Linked DNA regions of Homo sapiens. The protein of the gene in region 2 purifies or fractionates together with the protein of the main gene of each other region. This does not show direct contact. Each region holds a gene or a part of one and is shown on either strand. Other genes may lie near its edges.

Region 1 (7,114 bases), on a different chromosome or scaffold from region 2:
TTTTCCCCTCATTTGAGGGGAAGACAATCTATGTTTCCCAAACAGATCCTCCTTTCATACTAAAATAGCAAACTGTGGCCTCGATCTCCTCTTCCCAGATGCTACTTATAGATGACTTTGCATAATAACTTAATTAGAATTACTTTTCTGGTAACAGTGTCACGGCCATAAATAATCAGTTTTTAAAAAACAAACATCAAGTGCAAATCTAGAAAACTTCCTTTAAAGAATTACCCAAACCCAGCACACATGCAGAATCATTATTAACAAGCTAAGCAATATGACTTTAAAACGTGTATATAATGATACACGTGCACTAAAGACCATCTTTTATAAAGTTTTAATAGTGTTGCCAAGTTAATAATTCTTTCAAGGCACTGGAGAATTACACAGATGGAGTTTCCAAAATATAACTGACAATTGCTTGAACTGTTAAAAAGCCCTGAGTCAGAACTTTCAATAACTTCCTGAAATTATAGATTGCAGACAAAATGGCACGTTTATTTTACTTTAAAAATTACAGGACCATTTTGCTTTTTGGAGGAAATAAGCTGGGTTTATGAAACAAATCATGCAGACTATACAGGAAAAGTAAAATATTCAGCATATGACCTTTCTTAGACATTTTGTACATGTCGATCACAACTTGTAGTTACAGATTTAGGCACCAAATTAATGTGACAAGTCACTTCTCCTGTACCTACTGCTTAAATTCTCAATGAAACAAAAATGTCAATTTTAACCTCAGGTTCCCATTTCCTCTTTACTCACAAATAAGAATAAATGCTGGAAAAAGTAATACTCTGACAGAAAAGGAGGTAGAAAATGCCAATGTAGCAATTTACAATTTTAATTCATCGGCTCTACTGTCTAGTTTACGTTTTTATACCAGAGTTTCACATACTACTAACCAGTAAATTGAGGCTCAATCTAAAGGATATTCCCCCTCACTGTAGTAAAGCAATGTACACGAGACAGCATTAAAGTTTCCTCAAATTTAATGTTTTAAAGAAGTACAACTATCATTATTAATACTGCTATAGTTATATATATGTTAAATTTCCTAGGCTATATATGACTATCAAGTAATATCAGTAAGCATTCCTATCATAATATTCAAGCAAATGAAGTAACGTTGCCTTTTTGAGGGAAAACATATTTTGAAACTTTTACAAGCAGACATAAAGACAGTTGACACTTCCAACAAGGCACACATAATTTATGAAAATCTATTATGTTCCCAATTGTACAAACTCAAAGCTAATCTAATTCTGATATTTAAAATGTGCCTCTCCCCTCTGGCTCAAAATGAAATAACAAACCCTTCCAATGAATAGACATTTAAAACCTACTCAATTTAATTGCTAACAATTCAGAGGAGAGGTGCACTGTCCCTCCCAAAAATTTTAAGAACTTAATGTTTACCATGACCTTAGATCTTGCAAACACAAACAACTAAAGAATTTAGGTGTTTCTTGATTTATATGGAGTCAAAATTCTATTCCACTGAGGAGAAAACAAAAAGGGGAGTTGTTTAATGGGTATGGAGTTTCAGTTTTGCAAGATGAAAAAGTTCTGGAGATCTGCTTCACAACAGTGTAAATGTACTTCACATGGCTGAACTGTATTCTTTAGAAACAGTTAATATGGTAAATTTTATGTTATGAGTTTTTCATCACAAAAAATACAAAAAACTATTCAAAAATTCAATTTTTTACACAAATTATTACTATAAAACATGGTAGACATTCTGATAGGATAAGTGCTTTTCCTTTTGGATTAAAAAAAGCAACCTGTATTAAAGCCTATAATTTGATGACATCTGTATGATCCTCTTTTTTTCTCTACACTCAAATGCTGACTTTCCTTTCCTATCTGTTGTAACCCCACTGTCCTGATCCTACTCTACCCCATCTCTAATTCTCTTAGTTCATGAATTTAACTAATTCTTAGTCCAAAAAGGGTCCAGAATTCAGAGTGGACAAACAGCAATTGGGCAACACATAGACAGTATGTTTCTACTATGTAAAAATGACCCAGCAAGTTTTGATATTTGAACCAGACACATCTTAAGCAGCATGCATTTCAATATGCTAAAATGCTCTTACAGGCTAACACCATAAAAATATAAATTTTAGAAATGTATTTCCAACATTAATTATCAATTAATTTTATGCTTCCATAGCTAGCTGGTCAATTTGCAATGTTTAAAGTTACAAATATCTTATGCATAATTTGACCAACTAAACATTTGTCTAATATATTCCTACACTAATACAAAATTATCTTTTCTTGAAAACCTTCTTGCTCCCAACAAAATTAAATATGTATATAGTATAAGCAGTAAGAACGTTAAATTACGTGAACAAATACCATTAGAACAGCACCATCTGGTATGTTGTATGTGTATGTTTTGAGTAACAACGCTAACAATCTTAGAAGAATAAAGGAGAAAATGGTAGGGTGAGGGATACAGAGAGGAAATCCAAACACTACTCAATGACAACTCTTCTGAAACGTTAGGAAATGTTATCAGGACCTTTGGATCTCTTCCTTTTAACTACAGATTCCTTAAAATACACAACTGCTGCACAATAAATTCTGAGTGTGCTAAGATGCCATTTTTCCACTGTTGTGTATCTAATCCCTAAAGCCCAATAAATACTTTTTTGAATGAATGCGTGTCAGTTTTTTTCTTTTTTATAAATGTTTCTAAGAAAAGTAAAAGCTCTTTTGAGGCACAAGATAAAGAGGTTTAGCTAATGAGCAGGGTAACGAACCTAACTGGAAAAGTACTGCTAAGGGACATATAATAAGAGGTAGCAGATTCAGAGAGTTGGAGGAAAGTCACTGAAATGATGAAGTTCTTAATCTTATTATCTCTCACAAACCCAAAATAAATTTAAAATAATTCTAAGTGATTGAAAACATGAATAAAGAAGTATTTTCTATTCATGGAACAAATTTCAAGGTGATACAAATACAGAAAACCCACAAGTACTAGCACTAAAATTATAATGACATTATTTCTATAATAAAAATTTATGTCATATTCTTATAAAGGAAATAATTAAACTAGTCTGGAAGATGCTATTACCTTTTAGGGATCTGTTTTAGCACTGCAGCTCAGAAAACAGAAAGGATTTGTTTAAGGAAAGTAGAGCTGGAGACCACACAATTCTCTGATTGGCCAAACTCTGCATGAGTCAGCCAGGTGCTCCCTCCTCACCAGGTGATCTAGTGGGAAGAGATGGGTAGCCCATGGCATGGAAGGAAAGGAAAAACCTGACATGCTGTTTTCATGTCTGCAACATGATAGTCTGTCTGTCTCTTTATGTGAACATCATCAGTCAGATGTTCTACCTTTTTATAACTTCAAAATAGTTTTAAAAACAGCGTCGGTGGCCCCTTATTAGATAACTGAGTGTACATGAATTTTCAAATTTGAAATCTATAAAAATTTTACTGTTCTAAATGATAGCAGTTACTCAGCTAAACACAGACATGGAATTGTTGAGACTACAAAACCAGCCAGCAAAGCTCCCCATTGCTTTCACCAGGACTTGCAAAGGCAGCAAGGATTAAACAGCCAGAAACAGTGTAAGAGGGCTAGAGACTTCATACTTTCAAATTTAGTTGGTGTTCTATAAAAACTGAAGTAAGAAAAGCTAGCCAGATTTAAAGGAGGGAAAAAAACTACAAAAGAGGATAACTATTTTTAGGAAAAAGCTTATCAACAGCATATAGTAGACACTATGTAAACACCTGATATAATCTAGCAGCAATGAATCCCCAAACATTTATGTGTATATTTACTCAGGAGACAATAAGATTACAAAGGAGATAAAAGGAGAAAAAAAATGATTAAATGCTCCAAAAATTTTGTTTGTTTTTAAAGTCTACAGGTAAGCAGACATTTCTATACATGTCCTGGTCACTCTTTCTAAAGTATTTATAATTAGGTTATTGACCATGTCTTGGATATTGTTGGCAGTTTAAATAATACCCTCATCCGTAGGTATACACAGAAAGACTGTTTTCTTTATAACAAAAAATACTATAAAGAAAGAGATAATGGAAATAAGGCCTATAATGAAGACAGAATCACTAACACTGTCAGAATTAACTGATACAGAGAAGAAAAGATTTTTTCTTGGAAAAGGCATTAATTTTGCAGATCACTGGGATACTATGTACATCTGCAAAGCTAAATAGAACCTCAGAGGTCCAAATAGGGCAATGTCATTTCACTGGTCAGATCAAGCCCAGATAAGTAATCACAGAAAACCGGAAGTACACTTTTCATAGATTTTTTTTAAAAACACTGGCTGAACAAAATAGTGTATAAATTAATGTAAGAAAGGCAACTGTTAGTGGCCAGTTAATAGATACTCGTTTTTTTTTTCTCTTCAGTTGCCCACTATTATTGCTTATTTTTCCTTTTCTTGTCTATCAGTCACCTTGAAACTGGTAATCTGATTCAAGTTAAACAATGTTCCTTTTGAATCTAGAAAACAAGAGAAATGCAAAGTCATTATTCCCTCATTCTATGCTTCCATTTACTCTAAGAATTCAGAAACAAACATGTGGGTAACTTCCTGTTATCTTAAAAAAAGAATCATCCCTTCGGTATTCCCTTAACTATCTGGAACTTGTACTGTCATTTTATAATTTACCATGTGACATAATTGTTTGACCTGCCTCTTTTATTTGATGCATGACTTCTCAGAGAACCTGTTATCAACTCACTGTGTAAAACCACGATGAAATGAAGGATAACTGATCACAAAGAATTATGTCTTTTGAGATCCAACAAATTTACAAATTATAAGAGAAAAATGCAATTTTTTAAAAAAGGATATCCTTAAAGGACTTTCCTCTTAGAAGCCAAAGGTAAATTATCCTATGAGTTACATGAATTTGATGTTTCAAATTTAAAACAAAAACAAAAAACACAATTTCCAACACCATTTTGTAGGGTTTTTTGTTCTGGTACATTTACAGCCCAATTATACTCTAGTAAAGAAACTATGATATTAGAAATTAACTCATCAGAACTTCCAACTAGATCAAAAGCCTATTAAGATCTCATGACTAGATACATTAGCTAACAAAATACACCATGTGTCTTAGTTAATACAAAAGAATCCTTCGTTCAATAGCCTTGCGACAGATAGGACATTCACTCATGCGGTCTCCACAGAGTTGACAGGTTCCGTGACCACAAAGGAAAATCATATTCTTCAGACGATCTAGACACACAGGGCACATTGTCTGTAATGTGAGATAACAAAGTAATAAATTAGACACTTTATATTTGGAAAGTGACAGACTGTTATATATCATTAATTTTCTTTAGTTGTTTTAGTCAAATAATATTTTGGTGGTTTTTAAAAACAATTTTTTAACATTTTTAAATAGTTAAAATGTCATCCCTATAAAATAAAATAGAAACACTGGTTGTACTATCAGGATAGTATGAAAGGTACTACATAAGATTAAAAACTATTAATATATAAAACACAGCCAGACACCCTGGCTCACACCTGTAATCCCAGCTACTCAAGAGGCTGAGGCGCGAGAATCACTTGAACGCGGGCAGCAGAGATTGCAGTAAGCCAAGATCGCGCCGCTGTGATAGAGGCAGGAGGCAGAGAAATTCTAGGCAGACAAGGGTGGGTCCCCAGTGAAACCCAACCTTTGAGCTGAAAAGCCTGAAACCCACAGGCCAAAGTGAGAACTTCTATTCCTGCTTGCCCACTCTCTCCCAATTGGTTCTTTCTTTCTTTTTTTTTGAGATGGAGTCTCACTCTGTCGCCAGGCTGGAGTGCAGTGGCGCAATCTCGGCTCACTGCAACCTCCGCCTCCTGGATTCAAGTGATTCTACTGCCTCAGCCTCCTGAGTAGCTGGGACTACAGGTGCGCACCACCACACCCAGCTAATTTTTTTGTATTTTTAGTAGAGATGGGGTTTCACCATGTTGGTCAGGATGGTCTTGATCTTCTGACCTCGTGATCTGCCCACCTCAGCCTCCCAAAGTGCTGGGATTACAGGCATGAGCCACCACGCCCAGCCCAACTGGTTCTTTCTAAATAATGTCTTTTTACCAATCGATTGTTGCCTTTTCCAAAACTACCCACAGCCCACCCTGCCCACTCCTCCCATGTTGTGCCTTTAAAGACTCCAGACCCAGGTAGTAGAGGGGAGAGAGGCAACTTGACTTCAAAGGGATGACTGGACTTCGGAGGAGAGATGGCTTAACTTCAGGGAAGAGATGGCCGGACTTCAGGGGAAGATTACCTACCCGTCCCACCCCCACTCCAGTTCCCCTCTCTGCTGAGAGCCATTTCCATCACTTAATAAAACTCTCTGCCTTCACCATCCTTCAAGTGTCCAGGTGACCTCATTCTTCTTGAACACTGGACAAGAGCTCGGGACACACCGAGTGTGGGTACCCAAAATAAGGCTGTTACACTGGCCCTTTGCCCTCACTGGCGGAGGGCAGCTACCCCACACTATGAGGCAAGGGGCCAACTGAGCTGATAACACACCGCTGTCCGTGGACGGCAGAACTAAGAGAGCACTCTAACATGCCCTCAGGGGCTTTGGAGTCGCAGGCACCCCCACCTGGGTGCCGCTGCATGGATCCTGCAATTGCTCGTTCATGTGCTCCCTCCCGCAAACAGTTGAGCACAGTGGCCAAGTAAGCAGCGCACCTCTGTCGCAAGTATGACAAAGGGGTTGAGAAAAATCCTGCATCAACTGCTCTCCAGCCTGGGCGACAGAGCAAGGACTCTGTCTCAAAACAAACAAACAAAAAAACCTATATAAACCAAAACGTAATAGGAAATGGATGAAAATAGCTCCATTCAGTCTAACTGAAATTCCCTGAATCTAGGTACTCAGCTGCTCTTGCATAAAAAGAAGGCAATGTATCATGCAATACATGGTGCAGGGTGGGGAGCAGTGCTGAGAAGTAGCTGAGAACACTTGTCAGGCACTATGCTTAGATAGGATACAATCTCAGTCCTGGTATCATTCCCACTTGGAAAATGAGGAAAACGAGGCTCAGCGGGATTGAAAACCTTCCTCAAAGCAAGCCCTAGAGTGAAC
Region 2 (7,098 bases):
ACATAACGTTTATCTTTATAAATCCCCTGCTAAACTCCAATGGAGAATTTATCCAATGAAGACGAACAAATGCTGAGAAAGTGAATTCATTCATTCATTCATCCATCCATCCATCCATCCATCCATCCATCCATCCGTCCATCCATTCAACAAATGGTTGAATGTCTATGGGTACCAACCAGGTGCTCTTCGAGATACTAGAAATATAGCAGTGAACAAAACAAAGTCCATGTTTTCACAGAGCTTATGTTCTATCAAGGGAAAAACAGGCTTATTAGAACAGCTGAGAATAATGAGTACCATGGAGGAGAATGAATCTGGGTAAGAGCAAAAAGGATGTGCAGATTACTATTTTAAACACCTGGTCAGGAAAAGGTCTGTCAGTTACTGAGACACTTGAGCAAACCTGAAAAATGTGAAGTTCCAGAATTCCAGGCAGAGAAAATGGCAAGTGCAAAGGCCAAACACTTGGGTCCACTTGCAAGCTAAAGAAAATAGAGCTAGTGTGGCTACAGTGGAGAGAGTTAGGGTAAGGGCTAAAGGAGACGGGAGGAAAAGGAGGATACAAAGGATCTAGACCTTGGTAGGCCATTTTCACGATCTGGGCATCTAGTATGAGAGAGACGGGAAGCCATTGGAGGAGTGTGGGCAGAAATGATCCTATTTAATGTTTTTTTTTTTTTTAAAGATCGCTAGCTGTGTGAGGAGAACAGACAGTAGGGAAACAAAGGTTGAAACAGGAAGACCAGTTCAATGGAGAGATCACAATGCATTCAAAGGAATATTTTAACTTCATTTGTCTATAAGCTGTGTTGCATTATAAGACTCAATATTCCAATAACTAAAACAGCAATCAATTGAATTACTCCCTTGTTTGCCACTGGCTTGGGTAATTAGAGTTTTTGAGGAAGAAGAATCATCATAGGTTACTTCTCAGGTTCTAGTTTGATCTATCGAAGAGTGTGGTTCCTTTATCTCAATCTAATAGGTAAATAAAACAAAAACTGCTAATTTCCCAGACAATCAGCTTTTTCAGAATATTCCCTCACAAATATCAGAAAGCAAACATTTTAATTTGCATGCTGGATTCAGGTTTCATATTATTGCAGTAGTTCATAACCCTAATCACAACATATATATATATATTACAGTAGTCAAAATTCATTTAATATTCCTGAAAGGTCCATTGAAATAAAAATATACTGCAAACCATAAAACCCACCAACACTCTCCCAGACTTCGGCTTCATAGTGAATTTATGAAATATCTCTATTAATGAGGCCAATCAATCTGATATATCCAATTTCCTTAACTTTAGCGAACAGTATGTCTAACAGCAGCCTCACCCAAACCATATTATCACTTTCAGTTATTAAAAGCTGGGTAGGAAAACCACCATACACTGTATACCTTTCAAGACTTTTAGCCACACTTGAGTGTTATTAATTGGTTTAAGAGGGTGTCAGAAACACATGCTTTCCTGCACACTTTGGTGATTTCATCCTATGCTCAGAGCACTCTGATAAATTAAATCATCCTGGCTGTGTCATGAATCGCAGCTGGCATGCCTGTGTACTGCTTTTTGACGATGAGCAAGCAATACAAAATGTGATGCTGATTCCACTCTTTCAAATCTCATTTTCAGCACTCATATAGTGTTACCAGGCAGGATTTTAAAACAAAAACAAACGTCATAATAAAATTCACTTTGGTTTCACAAAACCTAAGCCCTCGTGCCAGAAAATTGGAGGCTTTTTTTCTTTCCAAATAGCAGACAAGAATCTACAGCCATGAAGCGAAGTGGGTTGCGGGGTAGGGAGATGCAATATACATGGATAATCTAGCTATTTGCTTACCGATGGAGCTTTAATGGGGGGAAAGAGGGAGGAACTGCGGAACTGTTACAGCCACCTATACTACAGCCGTATTTCTACACCTTCACTGAACAGTGTCAAGAATCTGCCTCATTTAAGTTCTACTAACAAGTAAGGAGATTTCTCTCTCTAGGGATAGGCTTTTGCTGTTCTAACACCACTCCAGACTTCACCTTATGTGTCCCCCTCTCCTTTTCCCTTTCCTTCAATTACAAACTCCTGTTTTGTTTTGCTTCATCTTATTGTACTAAAAGAGTTCTTTGCAATAAGATGAACCCTTAAACCCTTCCTGGGGTAAAGAGAAAGAGAAATAAATAATAAAATATATAAAGATTTCTCTCTTCATGGCTAAATTTAAATATAGCAGGCATGGAGAAATGGTGAAAAGGGGTGTGTGGGTGTCCATGGCAAGATTTCTCAGTCTCTAGGAGAGAAAAGGATAGAGAACAAAATGTTTAAGGGATTTAAGAACGGTGTGTGTGTGTGTGTGTGTGTGTGTGTGTGTGTGTGTGTGTGTGTTACAGTCATTCCCAGGGCAGAGGGTAGAATTCAGGAAGAAGGGAGGGAAAAGAAAAAGATCAATCCAGGCAGTCACCCACCCCCAGCCTTCCCGACCCCTCTCCAACCCACCGCAGTGCTCTGAGCTGCTCAGAAAGCTCATTACCCGGAGGGCAGATTCCCGACACCAGATCAAGGGACCAAAGGCTGGGCAGCCAGTCTGGGGAGAGAGATCGGGAGGGATGGTGACAGGAACGAACGAGGATAGGAATGGATAGGGAAGGGGCGAGGAAGCCGGCGAGGCCCTAAGAGATCGCCGGCCGAGACTGAAAGACCGGGCTGGGCAGCCAGGACCTACCTGGAACCGTCAAGGTGGAGGTTGCCCCAGGCACCTCTGTCCTCTCCTCCTCAGCCTCCTCCAGCTGCTTTTGCTGTTGTTGTTGTTGTTGCTGCTGCTGCTGCTGCTGTTGGATGAGGCTGAGGTCGGAGCGGCTGAGTTCCGCTCTGGCGGCCGCGGGGACCAGCCGCGCTTTCAGCAGCACCACGGCCAGGCCGAGAAGCAGGGTGCAGGGGACACGCCGGCAGAGCCTCGCCATGGCCTAGAGCCAGAGGGCCGCGGCGGCATATTGCGGGGCTCCGGGCGGCGGCGGGCGCCAGGGCTGCGGGCTCCTGGCAGCGCCCGCTCGCTCGCTCCCCCTCGCGCAATCTGCCAAGCACTCCCTCACCGGCAGGAGGAAGAGGCCCGGGAGGCGGAGGGGGCGGAGGAGGAGGGAAGGGGAGTTCGCATCCTCGCGCATGTGACGCGCGGGGAGGGGCGAGCCGGGGCCCGCGGTCCCGCGCCCCGCAGCCACCTGGGGCCAGGCTGCTCCGAGAGGACGCGATGCTGGGGCTGCAGCCCGGGTGGAGGGCCCTAGGGGAAACAGAAAGGGGAGGCCTTCTGGGAGCTGGTAGACCCTCACAGCGTCCACTTCCCACTGAGGCACCGGGAAGATTTGCAGAGAGTGGAATAAAATTCCTTCCACCTGAGCCCAAAGTAGCAGAGAAGGTGGTATATTGATTACCCCCATCCAGCACATAGCGTGGGTGGCACCAACGGATCAAAAAGCCAGGATCTCAAACAAATAGGCTTTGCTGCATCACCGCCATCATTGCTTAGCTAGAAGTTAAACTGCAGCGCGCCAGATTTTGACTAAACTTCTTTTCTCTGCCCTAGTGGGAATTTCTTTCCATATCATTAAATATTCTTAATTACATTTTATCTAATTCTAGCCTATCCTTTTCATTTGTTCAAAAAAATCTTACTAAATACTAGTTGCTTACCATGTGCCAGCATTTCTTCAGGTGCTTGGAATAAGTAAAATACAATCCCTGCATTCCAGGAGCTCAACATCTATTAGGGGAGAGGAACACAGGAACAAATTAGAACCCAATGTGGTGGCTACAAACAGAAAAGCAATACAAGTCCAGAGGTCTCAGAATTGGAAGAAAATATCTTGTGTATGTAGGGGCTATGAAACACCAGGAGAGGTAGAATATAAAAAAGAGTAAGACTTCCACACAGGAGAAATCAGGAACGTGGAAGAGTGTGTGTGTGTGTGTGTGTGTGTGTGTGTGTGTGTGTGTGAAGCCCAGATGTGTGTAAGCACAGTGGGCTTGCAAAAGTGTGAGCAATTATTCTAATGGAGGAATGACAGTGTTTTAGATTGAAAAGGAGAGTGGAGACCAGGTCATTAAAAAAATAATAATAACAAGCATTTCTATAGTACTTACTGTGTGCTCAAGTACTTCACATTTGTTAACTTCTGTAATAAACTTAGATGCTGTATACAGAAATTGAAATTCACACAGTAGATGATAATGAAAGAAATTAATCAGGGAAGAAACTTGCTACCAGTTGTGCATTTTAGGAGGATCACTTTGCTCTCAGTATGGCAGATGGATTAAAGGGGGATAAATTGGAAGAGAAGATGCCAGTTTAGAGGTGTTTGCCAAAACCCATAGGAGATGCCAAAGGTCATTGAAACTGAAAAGGAGAAGAAAAGAGTAGGAGACACAGTATATAAGACTACAATAAACAGATACGGTTAATTGGAAGAGGAGGAGATATGCCTAGTGTGACACCTAAATTGACAAATTGAGATCTTAGGTGGCTGCTTATGACCTTATCAACATTAACTGGCCTAGAGTAATGAGCCCTGCCTTGTTCAGTTGTGGTCTCTTTGTATTTGGAGTAACTGTGGGACATCTCATAGTGCAATATAAATGTCACCTGCTGTGACATCACCCCATTTACCATTGTAGTTCATTGTCCTTTTCCACCCTTATCATTCTTACCTTGTCCCTCCCAGTGTTTTCAATATGCTGGAAAACAACAAACTTCTCAGTACTGGAAAAGTATTTTTTGGTTAAGCAAATGAAAATAGTGTATATATAACTAATGGTTTAGATGTTTTGTCCTTTCCAAATCTCATATTGAAATGTGACCTCCAATGTTGGAGGTGGGGCCTAGTGGAAGGTCTTTGGTTCATAGAGGAGAATCCCTCATGAATGGCTTGGTGCCCTCTTCATGGTAATGACTGAATTCTTGCTCTGAGCTCACAAGAGATCTGGTTGTTTAAAAGTGTGGCAACTCCCTTCTCTCTCTCGCTTGCTCCCTCTCCTGTCATGTGACACGCTGTCTCCCTTTCACCATCCACCATGATTGTAAGCTTTCTAAGGTCTCACCAGAGCAGATGCCAGCACCACACTTGCGTTGTACAGCCAGCAGAACTGACCTAAAGTAAACCGCTTTTCTTTATGTCACCCGAAGTTTACTGCAATGCAAATGGACTGACACAATAACCATAAATAAAATAACAGTAGGTATTTTGCATCTATTATCTCATTATATCTTCAGAGCATCTCTACAAATTAGCTCTCATTATCCTATTTAGCAAATGGAAACACTGGAGATCAGAGAGGCTCCATGTCTTGCCAGAGGCTACATTTACAGTGTGTGACTTTACCTTTCTGCACCGTTTGAGACTTCTGCTATGAGTTTGTATTGCTTTTTTAGTGATTTTAAAACAAAAATAAGGTATGTGGACCACATAATTTTGGGGAAAATAGATACTAAAGTGAGGCCCCTCACACTAAACATCATTCTTCCATCAGGACTTTCTTTCCCTGGTCTGTGTGAGGCAGGAGCCATTGGGGGAGGGGGCTCCAGAGCTGAAGGCAGCAAGTTTCCATTAGTTTCATCAAGCTGTTTTTATGGCAATCTCTTCCAAGTTACCTCTGCTCCTGGAGAGAAGAAAGGAGAAAATGGAAATGGCTCCAAAAACCTGACTGGTGGATCAGAAGGAAAGGAATGCAGCCAGGATTTCTGTCATCCTGCCTTGGGGTAGCCAAGTTATTTTTAATATAGTAGAAGCAGACCTTCTGGAGGCAAAGCCACTGGGTCATGGACCCTGGTAGAGGGTGGACCTCAAATCTTTCAATACTATGGACTGTTTTAAGAGGTAAGTGTTGTCAATCAAGAGTATTTAAATAGTTTTTAAGTGCTTCATTATTCGTGTAGTTCATGCTTAATTTCTGTGCAATATAAAAAAGCCATATTATCCGATTCAATTGGGGATAGTACTTGGCAAATGAAAAAAGTTCATCAAAAGACCAAAGTCAATACATCCTAAATATATCTTAAGCCACATATTTTACCCTAGAATAAATAAATATATATTTGTTCACAAATCTTTTGATGTAGGGCCAAGAATTTCAACCACATCCTAGAGTTTGAAGTCATAAACCACAGTTATGATATACCACTATGATTTGCAGGTTTAGTTTAAGTGGAAGTTCTCAAAGACCCTTGCCACACAATTAGAGTGCCAAGTCATTCTATGTTCAATTTTTTTCCCAAGCTTGTAGAATTTTCTCATATACTTAGTATTAAACTTATATTTTATTTTATTTTATTTTTTGAAACAGAGTCTCGCTCTTGTCTTCCAGGCTAGAGTGCAATGGAAAAATCTTGGCTCACTGCAACCTCCACCTCCTGGGTTCAAGCGATTCTCCTGCCTCAGCCTCCTGAGTAGCTGGGATTACTGGTGCATGCCACCACGCCTGGCTAATTTTTGTATTTTTAGTAGAGACAGGGTTTCGCCATGTTGGCCAGACTGGTCTTGAACTCCTGACCTCAGGTGATCGCCCGCCTCAGCCTCCGAAAATGCTGGGATTACAGGCGTGAGCCACCACACCTGGCCTAAACTTAGTTTTAATAGGAAAAATTTACTTATCTCAAATCCATATTGTATATATTCCTTATCACACATATAACTGGCAAAAAAGAAAAAGTTTGTGAAAAATATAACTGACTTTTGGCACAGGCACAACCAAATGACAGGAGTAAACATAGGCAGACATTCAGGAAGATGTAAGCTGATAACTACATTTGCCCTAAATGTTTGTCTGTGTGTTTTACAAAGGAATGAAAAATGCCAGTTAATCCAGCAAGTTATTTTCAGGTACATAGTCCATGATAAAGTTTATGCTAAACACAATGTAATCGTTAAGGTTAGAAATTCATCATTTTTAGAAAAATGCCCCAAGAGCCATCAGAAAGCAAAGCACAATACTATACACATATAATTCTTCCCCACTTAAAACCTACTGGTACCTCCTCATTACTCTTAGCACAAATCCAAAATTCCTAACATGATTTACAAAGCCGTTTGCAATATGTCCCCTG
Region 3 (7,114 bases), on a different chromosome or scaffold from region 2:
TATTTTATTTAATAAATGTGAAAACTAAGGCCTTGCAAGCCTATGGCTTCACCCAGGGGTAGGATCAGGCACCTTAACTCTAGAGCCCATTCTCCTAACCACTGAGCCATGATTGTCTTACAATTTTGATACTGCAAAACTGGAAGAATTGTCTGGCTATTATCTAAGCTGTTCATAAGCTGAACAAGTAGATCTGAGGGTAAGAGGAGTTCTGTTTTAACTAGACTGAGTTTCAAATAGAGATGTTTCAGACTATAGAGGGGGAAAAATGGCCTGGGAAGATCATAAATCTAAGCCTGTTTCATTGATGTTTTTGTCATTTGCATCCAGTAGCTATTCAGCAAATATACCTATGGCAAAAAGGATATAAGTTATGGGTATAACTGAAATAATCCTGGGTTTAAAGCAAAGCTCTGATAAATACAGACGATGTTTCTCCAGGTGCCAGAAGATATGTTGAAGTTTGAGCTCAGACTGACCAAATGCTAGTTATGGGGTATGTGATAGCTCCAAGGTAGTAATATAAAGGCTATTTTAATTAGAAACTTTTGAGTAAATGGCCCTCAGGATAGTGATTTCTGTTTGAATGTCACTAACCTTTTTTAGTTACAGATCCCTATAATAATGCTTGAGTCTAGGCAGAACAACTTTGTGTTTATTCTTTGCAAAGGGTAGGGTAGTGCTAACAACCTGCTCTTCATTTGCTTTTTCTCCCCTTTGCCGATTCAGAATGCTGCTTTGTCAATTTGTGTGCCTGCTGTAGGAACTGGTCCGTTTTCCAAGTGTGACAGTGCAGGCAGAGAAGGGTGGATGAGCTGTAAATGCAGCCTAGAACACATTTGATTATAGAGAATGAAGCACTAATATCCCAATATAATTGGAGTTTAAAAAAAAAAAATACCACCTGGGCATCAATGTGTTTCCCTGCTTTGCATTTTCCCAGAACTATTTCTGCAAACATCAGTTTCCTCAGCCAACTTAATATTGAGTCACCAGAACGGAAATCAGCCATATTACTTCCTTATTTGTGTTGAAAATTGGAACAGAATGGAAATATTTCTTCCCTCAGAAGTTGGCAGGAACGGCAACAAGACAATCTGTTAGGGGTGACAGCTATAGGCTCTTCTCTTTTTTAAAAATAATATAGTCAATATTCAACATGGTTTTCTGGGGTAAAATCATCCACATTTCTGATTCTTTATGATCCTAGCAAAGCTTACATTCTGTATACCTGAAAGATGAAAAAGGAGTTGGATTAAACTTGAGTCTTACACTTATCTATTACATTTTTATTTATTAATGCTGAAGAAAGGTAATATAGGCTGGGCGCGGTGGCTCACGCCTGTAATCCCAGCACTTTGGGAGGCCGAGGCAGCCAGATCACCTGAGGTTGGGAGTTCAAGATCAGCCTGTCCAACATGGAGAAACCCCGTCTCTACTAAAAATACAAAAAATTAGCCAGGCGTGGTGGTGCATGCCTGTAATCCCAGTTACTTGCGAGGCTGAGGTGGGAGAATCGCTTGAACCTGGGGGGTGGAGGTTGCAGTGAGCCGAGATCTCACCATTGCGCTCCAGCCTGGGCAACAAGAGCGAAACTCCGTCACACACACACACACACACAAAAAGGAAAGGTAATAAAAAATTTTATCAAGTAACTTCATCCACAAACATAGTATAGCCCTTTTTAACTGATAAGAAGAAGGTGACACTTTGGTTTTCCTTTTTGAAATCTGTTCTTGGGTTTCAAATGTCAGCTGCTACATTAAAAACAGCAGGCATAATATATATATATATATTTTTTTTTCCAAATACAAATGCACGTACTCTTGTGTCTCCCATGGCATCTAATATACCTGCCTTAATGACCTCAGCCCACTTAACTGATTTGGTGAACAATTCTGCATCTGAGGCTGTATATGTGAGGAAAAATTAAAGGATTGGAAATGAAAGTAAAATAACTATAGTATAAAGGATCATATGTTCAAAGCATGCAGGCCTAATATTATAGGAAGTCCCAAACATATAAGTGAATTGCATTCCTAGAACTGACACATTTGTCTTTTCTCTGTTGCATTCACAATATAATTACATTTCAGTCACATTGTCTTAGATACAGTTGGCTGTTTCTGGGCTGTCTTTCAAGCTGGTTTGTAAATTCCTGAGGGTCTAGGACAGTGTCCTAATTCTCCTTAGCAACTCTTGCACCACCTACTGTACTTCATCTTCCACGATGGATCCTTGACCTAGCTGAGCTGTAGTTTTAAAGTCATTAGTCTAGAATGAGCAGAATGGTCATAGTCAATGCAGTTTGTGCTGCAAGTAGCAGAAACCCATTCAAGCTGACTTAGCAAAAAGGAGACTTAGTGTGAGGAAATAATAGTACCCTGATACCAAGGATGATTTGTTCTTCCCTCACTATTTTTTTCTGCTTTGTCACCTTCTTGGACACGTATCTTTGCCAGTGTTTTCTCTCACAGCTGCTGAACAGCCTGTTACCTGCAAATGGGTTATATCCGTTAGTCTTTCAAATCAGAAGTCCTCTGTGTTCAGGATGTACATGGTATGAGTGAAGTGCCCAGTATTAACTGGATGTGTAAGGCTATTGTGCAGCCTCTTTCTCTTGTGGCTCAAAATCAGTGTGCCAGGTTTCTTCTGCCATGTTTGGCCTAAGAGCAGTTTAAGGGAGTTTATAGTGTTTTCCTAAATCCTGTCTGGTAGGTAGAGGCAAATGGCTATGTCTGTACAACACAAGAACCACAAATCTTGGCCACATGGGCAGTTTGCTTGCCACACTCCACTGTGTAAGGAAGAGACTAGAGATCTATGATGAAGATTGCCTGGCAGCCACAGACACAGTTCAATAACTTTTTGTGAACTTAATCTTTTTTCTCCTGCCTAACCATTTCCGCATTTATTACGTGTTTGCACATTCATCTTCACTTTTGTGGTTTTAATTTTGAGTAAAATTTAATAAAGTTGTTTCTTTTTTTAAAAAAAAAAAAGGGTCACAGGAGTGCCAGGAAGTAGAATTCTATCAGGCACCAAAGCACCATGTATGAGTCTCTCTTTGTCTTTCTCCTGCTCCTCTTCCTGTCTTCCCACTCTCTCCCTTCCCCATCCCTCTTGTCCTTTCTTACAGCTTCTCCTTGTATGTGGCCCAAACCTGACTGCCTCAGCCCCCACATGCCTCCTTTTCCTCAAATGACCCTGACCCACAAGGGTCTCAATTCCAAGTTCCAAGAACAAAGATTCTATTAGCTTACTTTGCCAATAGGTTGTCTTCCTCCTAGACCCAAGAAGATAGGGATAGGGCTCAAAGAGGGGAGCCGTTGGGTAAGTAGATCACGACAAATCTTCTCTACCACAAACTGAGGACACATACAATGTCATATCATGGTTGGGATCCAAGCTCAGTTTACAATGCCTATATGCTCCATAATATTGCAAAATATTTGCAATGAGAAAAAGAAAAATGTGAAATTTTAAATTTAAGATTAAAACTGCATAATGGTGTCCCCTTCCCCCCAACCCCCAAGATTTTTAAATGGTTGCATGGTATTCTGAGTGTTTTATAATGATGTAACTATCAAATGTAAATTTTAGTTCAATATCTGAAAGAACCATGAACAATAATAATAGAGCTTATTCAGTGATTACCATTGCCAGACTCTGTGTTTTATGTATACTACCTCATTCAGACTTTGCAATAATCCTGTGAGAATAGATTCTGTTATTTTGCCCATTTTAAAGATGAGGGGCTGAGGCAGGGAGATTAAGTCATTTATAAAAGTTGCAAGGCTGGTTAGAGTCACAGATCGTATTTGAATCCTATACTCTGAACCTCTCTGCTACCCTGCTCTTATTAGAGACCTTCAATTTTGCTGATCTAGAGTAATCTAAATCTAGAATGGAATGTGAGTGATTATATCTCTCATTGGAAATATTCAAATAGCCTGAAGCACCATTCTGCAGGTCAGTTGCAGAGGAAATTGAGGAACTGTATTAGTGGCCCTTAGATGCAGTACATGAATCCAATGCCTCAGAAACACCCAGGGAGCCAATTAAAAGTCATAAATTCCAAGGCGCAAACACAGAGTTTCTTACTCGTTCTGGGTTGGGACCTGGGAATCCATATTTTTAAAAAGCTCTCCTGACAGTTGTGATATTCAACCTGGTTTGGAAACTGCACTTGGTGATCTTTTATTCCTACCATTATCCTCTAGGACAACATGGTAAATGAAGGTATCAGGTTGGGAGTCGGAAGAATGCATTTAATTAGGTACTTTTAAGGTCTTCCAAGATTGTTAGCATTGACTGTTTTTGTTTCAGAGAATTTATAATAGGCAACTGTATGTCAGTTTGAACAATTATAATCCCTGTTGCATAACATTATTCAATTTATAAAGATCTGTCACATACTGAATCAAATTTAAACTAATCTCCATCAATATTTATTGAGCATGTGCTAGTTATGACGTACAGCAATAAAAAATATAGGCCTTGTTCTTAAGGGGTAGTTGAGATGGGATAGACTGCCTAGCAGTACAGAGCAGCATATACCAGCGCCAGATGAGTACGGTAGGTGGGGAGGGCTCTGGGGTGAAGGAGAAGCCATCCTTTATACAGCTATACTCTGAATTTATGTAGGAGGAATAGCTAAGGCCTTGATAGGAGGTTCAGGAAGTTTGCGGGAAGGCAGAATTCCATGTGGGAGTTATGCTTTGCCAAGCCTTGTGTTGGTGAGGACACTCATTGCCCTGCAGCCCTCGCCTGTGACAGCTGTTCATTCTGCTGAAGTTCCTGAATCTCAGAGCAGGAAGACCGAATCCATTTCCTTTCTTTCCAGTTTCTTCTACACTAGCTACTTTGATCCTGGGGGGATGTGACCATACCCCCAGGTGATCTGCCCACGTTTGAGCCTCTCAGTTGTTTGACGTCTTCATCATGGACGAATATCTCCCTCACTCACTTCAGCCACTGCAGCTTCCGGAGTCTATCTCCAGTTTCACCATTGGCCCAGTTAGTTCTCCTCCAGAATCAGGAATCAGACGCAGCATTTTTGGCCACTGCCTGTCTTTACCACAATTTTTTAGCTGTTTTTTGTGAACAACTCCTGACCAGTGACCCCTCTCATTTTTCCCTGTCTCCTGGCCCTCTACCTTGAGTGCTTTCCTCCCAATTTTTATTCCTCTTTATTCTTCAGGTCCTGCACCTGAAGAATAGGTGCTGCACACCTCTTTTTCTCAGAGGCTTTCCATGATGAGATTAACTCCCCATGTTGGGTCCTCCTGTAGCATCTGTATTTTCCCTTGGGTAACATTGAGTTTATTTTGTATATATGTAGTTAGTGTCCATCATCTGCCAGACTGAACTTCGTGGAGGCCGAGACAATGTCTATGGGGCAGTAGGTAGGCACATGGTAGGTGCTCAATAGATACTGTTCAGTATATGAAAATGTATCCCTCCGATCTCAAACTCAGTGGTGGGGAAGAGTAGAAAGGAAGGAGATGGCAGGTTAAGAAATGAGGTGGCATTAAAATAAACTGGAGTTGTGGGGGGCTTTTTGTTTTGGTTTTGGTTTTACTACAGAGAGAGCAAGCCTCCAGCTCAAAGCCTTTCAGCAGGCAGTAGTATCTCTGGAAGCTAATAACACTTCTTTGTTTTCATTATGTTTATGTGTACGGTTACATTTGTCCACAGAACTGATGTAGAGTTTCCTTTTTAAATAAATGTGAAAGTAAAAATAAAATGAGTTGATTTAAAAGAAAAGCAGAAATGACGATAATTTGGTTCATGGATATAGTAAAAACAACAACAACAAAAAAGACAGGAGAAGGAATGAATGAAGTTTGGGAAGTGCTGCCCTGGATGAAGCTATAGGAACTCCTAATCAAAGTTCTGGAGAAAGCCTGGAGCATTTTTTCAGCACACTCATAGCCTGTCACCGTTGAGAACCACTAATCTAGAATAAAGTACAAAATTATGTCCTCCAATTGCTGTATATCTTGCAGTGAAAAAGAGCTTGGAAACTTACATGTCAAGCCCCTAGCACAGTGCTTGGCTGATGGCAGTCATTCAATAAATGTTATTTCCATTGTTTCTACCCATCACCCCCTCTTAAAAAAGAGACTGTATTCCAAACTAGATTCTCCTACTAACTTGTAGCATGTCGTAAGAAGCAAATCACTGTGCACTGAATCAATTAGATTATATTACTTCCAAAATCCCCTCTCTGCCTAAGTCTTTGTTTCCTTTAGTGTCCTTTTTGTGCGGTTTTAGGAGGAAATGGAAATAAACACGTTTAGTGTGTCATGTATTGCCAAAGTCTGAAGGTTTTTTATTTTACTCTGTATACCCCATCCTTAAATTGTAAAGATTTAGAAAAGTATTTGTCACCATTCAACCATCCTTTCAAGGGTTAATTAATGAAAATTAAATGACATTTGCACCGTATTGTAATTTAGACTTTGAGATATTTAATGGCAAAATACAGTGATTCATTGTTTTTTATGTTCTGTGATCAAGCAGCCTTCATATAAATATAAAGGAGAGTAAATGTCATTTCCAAAACTAATTATCTTGGTGCTTTATAAGACATAAAGCTAGGCATTTCATCCCATATTTTATAGAAATAAAAGTTGAATTTTTTCTTTGAGAGTTGGTGGCTTAAAGGGGGAGTCAAATTACCAGGAAGGTGATCATAAATACATAGACTTTTGGACTAGGATGTTATTTTGCCTTTTATTCAAGATATTTTGCTCTTCTTTTAAATGTGTCTAACAATCTGTCCCTGTAGTTTTATATTTGCATTTCTACTAACTAGACACTTAAGATGTCAGTTCCTCCCTTAGCTAGTTTACAGAGTTTGAGCTAGAAATTTGGTATGCTTACAAACTATTAAATACACTGTACTTTGTCTCTTCGTATTGGAGAAACTATTAAAAGAAAATTCTGTTGTCTAATGTTCTTGCCCATGAAGGAGGTTCCATAGCTTTAGAAGTCAATAACTCTATTTATGTGTATGCAGTAAGTGCAGCTTTCTTTCCAGTGTTAAAACAACCCACCTCAGGTGTCCCTGCATTATTTATATGTAACATATCTTCATACTTGAATT

Evidence for each region.
Region 1: the proteins of FAM171B (region 2) and MIB1 purify together in Homo sapiens (affinity purification with mass spectrometry; 2 studies listed by BioGRID and IntAct, with this or other methods). This does not show direct contact.
Region 3: the proteins of FAM171B (region 2) and MFAP3 purify together in Homo sapiens (affinity purification with mass spectrometry; 2 studies listed by BioGRID and IntAct, with this or other methods). This does not show direct contact.

The regions. Positions count from the first base shown.
Region 1 is NC_000018.10:21,862,686-21,869,799, reverse strand, and holds part of MIB1 (E3 ubiquitin-protein ligase MIB1), read right to left. Parts: intron 5,275-7,114; coding exon 5,134-5,274; 3' UTR 1-5,133. UniProt on the Homo sapiens protein: E3 ubiquitin-protein ligase that mediates ubiquitination of Delta receptors, which act as ligands of Notch proteins.
Region 2 is NC_000002.12:186,690,044-186,697,141, reverse strand, and holds the start of FAM171B (protein FAM171B precursor), read right to left. Parts: upstream 3,083-7,098; 5' UTR 2,969-3,082; coding exon 2,731-2,968; intron 1-2,730.
Region 3 is NC_000005.10:154,041,948-154,049,061, forward strand, and holds part of MFAP3 (microfibril-associated glycoprotein 3 isoform 1 precursor), read left to right. Parts: intron 1-7,114. UniProt on the Homo sapiens protein: Component of the elastin-associated microfibrils.